2 linked regions of the Homo sapiens genome follow. The protein of the gene in region 2 interacts with the protein of the main gene of each other region in a pairwise test. Each region holds a gene or a part of one and is shown on either strand. Other genes may lie near its edges.

The links.
Region 1: the proteins of NT5C2 (region 2) and ATP5PO interact in binary tests that used the Homo sapiens proteins (3 or more experiments, as listed by UniProt).

The regions. Positions count from the first base shown.
Region 1 is NC_000021.9:33,909,184-33,913,009, reverse strand, and holds part of ATP5PO (ATP synthase peripheral stalk subunit OSCP, mitochondrial precursor), read left to right. Parts: intron 1-610; coding exon 611-721; intron 722-3,798; coding exon 3,799-3,826. UniProt on the Homo sapiens protein: Subunit OSCP, of the mitochondrial membrane ATP synthase complex (F(1)F(0) ATP synthase or Complex V) that produces ATP from ADP in the presence of a proton gradient across the membrane which is generated by electron transport complexes of the respiratory chain.
Region 2 is NC_000010.11:103,089,761-103,092,453, forward strand, and holds part of NT5C2 (cytosolic purine 5'-nucleotidase), read right to left. Parts: intron 1,856-2,693; coding exon 1,804-1,855; intron 1,237-1,803; coding exon 1,176-1,236; intron 1,028-1,175; coding exon 851-1,027; intron 463-850; exon of another isoform or gene 149-462; coding exon 1-148. UniProt on the Homo sapiens protein: Broad specificity cytosolic 5'-nucleotidase that catalyzes the dephosphorylation of 6-hydroxypurine nucleoside 5'-monophosphates.

The sequences.
Region 1 (3,826 bases), on a different chromosome or scaffold from region 2:
ACTAAGAACATGTAGTCATACATTGATGGTAGAAAAAAAGTCTATAGTTTATTGTGAAAAATAATTCAAGCATCAGGTTTTTTTGTAAACTGCCAAAGGGCTCTGTTACACTGAACATCGATAGGGAGGCTATGTAAGGGAAAATGTGTAGTGTTAGTATGAAATGTATAAAAGTATACTTGTGTGTTTCATAAACACCTGTTTTCCTAGCTCTAACATACTCGAAACTGTCTATCAGTGTTCACAACCTCCCATACTTGAAACTAAATAGTTACTGAGTTCAAAGGAAACATAAGCTTATCTCAAAATTAAAGTACAAGTAATTGATAAAGGTATGTAAACCTGGAAGGGACTTTAGACAATGCCTACTAAGCCCCTCATTTTACAGATGAGGAATTGGAGGCTCAAAGATTGAGTGACCTGACCAAGGAAACATCGCTAATTTATTTGCAAATTGCCATTTAGGACAGCTCTTGAATGACATATTTAAACTGTTTTGTGTTAAAGAGATACATTTTTTAAAATATAAATTTTAAATTCTGCTCTTGAGAGTATACTATTAACTGATTTTCCTTTTTCTTTCCTCTCCTATTTCACCTTTTTTTTAAAGCCTCCTGTTCAGGTATACGGTATTGAAGGTCGCTATGCCACAGCTCTTTATTCTGCTGCATCAAAACAGAATAAGCTGGAGCAAGTAGAAAAGGAGTTGTTGAGAGTAGCAGTAAGTAGCTTTCCTATTCATTACATATGAAGTTCCTGTTTGTATATTTTTTCCTTTGGTTGTTTGTGCATTCCTAATGAGGTGTATCCTACAAGAAAAAACTGGGAAAAAGCCATTGTCTGTAAACACATTTTTAGTAATAATATTGGGTTTTTATTATAAGACATATAAAAAGAACAAACAGATACATATAAGGATATTAATATTAGGAACCAAGATTAGGGGCTAAGAAAAGGTAGAAATATAAGATTAAAATGGATGGTAATTTAGGAAAATTGCTATTTCAGAAGAGAATTTAAAAGCTACCTTTAAAAATCTATGCTTATAACTGGGCACAGTGCTCACGCCTGTAATCCCAGTACTTTGGGAGGCTGAGGCAGGCAGATCAGGAGGTCATGAGTTCAAGACCAGCCTAGCTGACATAGTGAAACCCCATCTCTACTAAAAAATACAAAAAATTAGCGGGACGTGGTAGTGAACACCTGTAATCCCAGCTACTCCGGAGGCTGAGGCAGAATTGCTTGAACCTGGGAAGCCGAGGTTGCAGTGAGCCGAGATCGCGCCATTGCACTCCAGCCCCGGACGGTACGAGACTCCGTCTCAAAAAAAAAAAAAAAAAAAAAAAACCTATGCTTATGGGCTAGGTGTTTAGAATATATTGTGATTTGGTTTTACTGAGAATTTGTTTTCATGAAACCTTTTCCTCAGGTTTTAATTGCCATATTCTATGCTTGTAGAATCAGAGGAGGCTCAGATATGTCTTACAGGTTGTTTTCATTTGGTAGAGATGCCTTTGCAATTGCCAGAACCCCAGAAGTAACCATGTAGACCTTTTCATTGTTTTGGTAAACCTCTTAATTATTTTGTTCCCAAAATGTGAGGGAAGAATAACAGGGTGGGGCGCGCTGGGCAGCAGAGTTAGTAAAGGGGCATGGGCTTCCCAGTAGTAGTAGAGGACTGACAGGCAAAGACTGTGAGGCTGCTGCAAGATGTTTTTTACTTTTTTTTTTAAACATGAAAAGCAGAATAAATAAACCGTATTACCAGAAGCCTACATTGTAACTGAATAGGAGAATGTCTGCTTTCGTTTTCACCGAATTTTCTAGTTAACAAGTTTCTACACATTCTGTTGCTTCCTTCGATTTTCTAGCGCCACCACTGGCAGTAAGGTCTGCATTAAAAAAGGTGAGGGAGACGCAGTCTGGTATATAGCCTCTTCAGAGGAAGTTTGGTTTTTTCTTCATTTTAAGATTCTTCATTCTTTAATTCACATATCTGCAAGTTTTTATTGTTTAGAAAAAACAATTCATAGGCCAGTTGTATAGAGTAATAATACTTACGTTCTATATTAATCATCGTATGTATAGTCTATAAGTATTACTGTTCTGTACTGTTTATGTTTTATTCATTTTTCACTTGAGCTTCTATTGGAACTTCCGTCTTAACAGGCAGAATAATTTTAGCTCCATATTCCTTCCTTGATCCATTTATCTCTGCAGATAATGCTTAAGGTCTTAGCTGGTGTGATAAACTCTTATGATTCTCTCAGAGCCCAGGAGCCCAGCCCTGTTGTTGGAGACATTTGGGGGAAGGGCATGCAGGAACAGACGGGGTCTCACACAGGCATTTTTGGAGGTGATGGTTATTGTCTGCTACTTGTCAGTTATGCCCATTTTAAACGGAAACAATCATGTTTACAATGGAGAGAATTACTTGGATTGTGGATATTAGAATAGAGTTTGTCTAAAGCCTGGAAGTCAGTCGAGACATGGAGAAAAAGGGAGGCAATTACCTTAAGACACTGAATATTAGCAGGGTTTTGGCACTAAGAGGGAAGGATGATACAAGGATACGCACTGTCCTCTGGATGATGCAGGAGACACAGATAAACATGAAAAACTAGGTAACCCAAATTCCAGAATGCTTTAAATCTGTATATTCCTGCATTTTTTATGGAAAAATGTCATTTCTGTGGGGTCACTCAAGTGGAAATGTTAGCATTGGATGATAGTATCTGACCAGTATCCTGGATCAGAGGCAGGATTCTGGCCAGGAGCCTGGGAGGAGGTGCTAGGAGCGTAATTGAAAAGCATAGAGAGGTGTGTTAACTGAAGGTGCTCAACTGGAAACTGCTGTTCGTTTGTTGGAACTCTGGAGCAACATGCTGGAAGCTGCACTTGGTCACTGAATTCAGACACTGTGATACAACAAAATGAGAAGAACGTTGTTTCCCATGATGGTTGTGCTCCTGTTTTATTGTCCACTCTGTCTCCCAGACTCTTTGGGGCCGCTCTGGCAGCACCAGAGGCCTCACAGAATCTGCTGGGTTCCCTGGACTCTGTAAGAGGCAGGGCCCCTCCAAGGGAGCGGTGCGGAGGCCTCTGTGGTCAGAGCACAGTTGTGAGGTCTGCACTCTAGAAATAGCACTGCTAGAAAACCAGACGACTCCTCTCTTAAATATATTAAAGTATGCAGTCTAATGAAGGTTTGGCTGTTTAGTGTTTTATAATCTTTCTTGAAAAGCAAAAACAAATTTAAGAAAGTTCGTACAGTATTTTTAAATTTTTTTGAGGAACATCATTCTATATAAAATCCTGGTGCAGTGCACAGTGTATTCTGAAAGGCAGTCAGAAAATTGTTTGATTATAATCTTTTTTTCATATGTTCTTCGGCAGTGCTAATTTAATTCATAAAATATTTAATTCATAAGAAAGTGTTTGTATGGCCGGGCACAGTGGCTCATGCCTGTAATCGCAGCACTTTGGGAGGCCGAGGTGGGTGGATCACTCGAGGTCAGGAGTTTAAGACCAGCCTGGTCAACATGGCGAAACCCCGTTTCTACTAAAAATACAAAAATTAGCGGGACATGGTGGTGCAGCTATTCGGGAGGCTGAGGCAGGATAATCGCTTGAACCCGGGATGTGGAGGTTGTGTGAGCCAAGATTGCGCCACTGCACTCCAGCCTGAGCGACGGAGCAAGACGTTGTCTCCAAAAAAGAAAGAAAGAAAGTGTGTGCATGGCACATCCTTCATTTGTGCTCTAAAAAATTTAAGAAATTATTTTTTGATGCTTTCAGCAAATCCTGAAGGAACCCAAAGTGGCTG
Region 2 (2,693 bases):
GTTTAATCTCACTAATTGACCGTGTCAGCTGGTGCCGCTTGTAGTCAGTGTCTTTGAAATCCACTGATGTGCGGTTCCGGGTGGCAAGAGGAGACTCCATCTCATTGATATCTACGTGTGTGTGCTCCACCGTTGATTCATGAGGCATCTAGACAGAAAAAAGCTAGAGGCTCAGAAAGCAGGCAGAGCAAAGTAGCTACTCCCCAAATCCTAACCCCTCTCCTCTGTTAGGTGGCCATGCAATTACATCTATAATGGACCACAGGACAAGTCAATATAGACTTATCTTCATAGAACTACTTATAGTTGCCTGTCTTCCTCTCTCCCTGCCCCTCAAAATGGTGCCCATATTGTCTACTGCAGCTGGAAATTGGAAAAGATGGAGAGGGGAGTTTACTTTCTATTTTACAGCAAAAACAAGATAGTCCTGAAACAGATCAGAATAAAGGAATGTAAAAACCACATTTTCTTTTTCTTGAGATGGTCTCTCGCTGTCACCCAGGCTGGAGTACAGTGGAGCAATCACAGCCCACTGCAGCCTCGACTTCCTGGGCTCAATCAATCCTCCCACCTCAGCCTCTAAAGTTCTGGGGTTACAGGCATGAGCCACCATGCCTGGCCCACATACAGCTTTTAATAGAGTAGACTTCAGAGAGTAAAGTTACACTCTTAACTTCCAATGTTGGTTCTACTTTCTCAAAGACCCCTTCTTATGCAACCATATAACCTGCCCCTGGGCTCTGTACATCAGAAAGAAATGTTCAAACTATCTCCTGTGCCATCTCACAAAGGTGGTTGCTGACCCTGGGCTTAGAGTACATCTTGGCTGTCCATTACAGCTTTAACTCACCAAGACATGGGCAGCCCTGAAGAGGTAGCTGAAAGGGTAATACAGCAGGTTGATGAAAGATGCTGCATAGAGGTCAGCATAACGCATCACTTGACTGGCAAAAAGGGTCTGCCGGGAGCCACTGCGAAACAGGCTTCCCATCATCCCATAGCACATGTCCATGTCATGAGTTACTTTCTAAAACAAAGAACAAGATTGATTCTTGGCTCATTCAACAAATATTTATTGAGCAGTAGTTGAATGCTAGTCTCTATAATAAATCAGGAATGTGAAAAAAGCATTTAAACTTATTTCCCAAGTTTTCTCCCAAATCCCATTTGGATACCTTAATACGTCTCTGGATGGAACTGATGTCTGGACGCTCATTGCTACTGCTGTCAAGATGCCTAAAGATAAAAGAAAAACTCAGTGAAAATCTCTGGGAAGAGCTTTTTTTTATTCTTTAAGACAGTCTCATTCTGTCACTCAGGCTGGAGTGCAGGGGTGTGATCGCGGCTCACTGCAACCTCTGCCTCCCAGCTTCAAGCGATTCTCCTGCCTCAGCCACCCTAATTAGCTGGGATTACAGGCATGTGCCACCACACTCAGCTACTTTTTGTATTTCTGGTAGAGATGGGGTTTCGTTTGCCATGTTGGTCAGGCTGGTCTCAAACTTCTGGCCTCAAGCAACCCGCCTGCCTTGGCCTCCCAAAGTGCTGGGATTACAGGCATGAGCCACTGCGCCTGGCCTGGAAAGAACTTTTTTTTTTTTTGAGACGGAGTTTCACTCTTGTCGCCCAGGCTGGAGTGCAATGGTGCAATCTCAGCTCACTGCAACCTCCATTTCCCCGGTTCAAACGATTCTCCTGCCTCAGCCTCCCAAATAGCTGGGATTACTGGCCTGGAAAGAACATTTCTTATATCTAAGTGATTCCTGAGTAAGTTTTTGGGAAAGAAATTTTTAGAAAACTTACTTGTAGAGTTCAGCCAAGAAAATATCCAAGCTCTGAAGTTCTTCGAAAAGTGCTAGTTAAGGTTTGGAAGGAAAAGGAAGACATTTTAAATAAATAAGCACCTAGTTCTTAACTGCTGCTAAACTAAAAGGTTGCAGATGTGACTGGAAAGTAGAACCTGGGACTAACATGCTGAGTGTACAGTTACCTCCTCTTCCCCTCTTCAGGATAACTCACTGATACCTGCTTGGAGTCTGACAACAGATGAACACCATCACCTTCTCTTTAACTGCCTTTCCTCCTGCTTAAACACCATGATGACAACTTTCCCTTCCAGCTGCACGCTCATTCTGAGCTTGTAAAGTACCAGAATTTACATGCTGTCTCAGGTGCAGTCAGCTAAGCAAATGTTAACAGTCCCATTTTCAGATGAAAGATTGAGAATCAGGTGACTTTTCCTGAGTCACAGGTCCAGGGCCAAATCAACTAGATTTCTAAAACTTCATAGGTAGAAAGTTGAAAATGTGAATGAAAGGCTAGCCAGAAAATCCCACTGATAGTACAGACAGTAACAGCAACAGCCAGCATCTACAGCATGCTGCCGGTGTGTTGCAGCCTTTGTCAGTCTGGGTTCCTCAAGACAAGCCCTCCTTCATCTACTGTATGTAACACATTTTCTTCTATCTACCATCTTTAGGAGAATTGAGAAAAGTGTTACTCAAATAATTTTCTGTATTCAGCTCCATTGGAAAGGTAAAATAATAGTAATAATTTTCTGTGTTTCGGATATGGAGCCTTGGTTGAGAAAGGCTGTCATGTCTATCTTTATACACATATTACCTCCGTTTTTCATCAGCTTTAGGAGGTAGGTATTATCCCCATTTTTACATTTGAGGAAACTAAGGCACAGG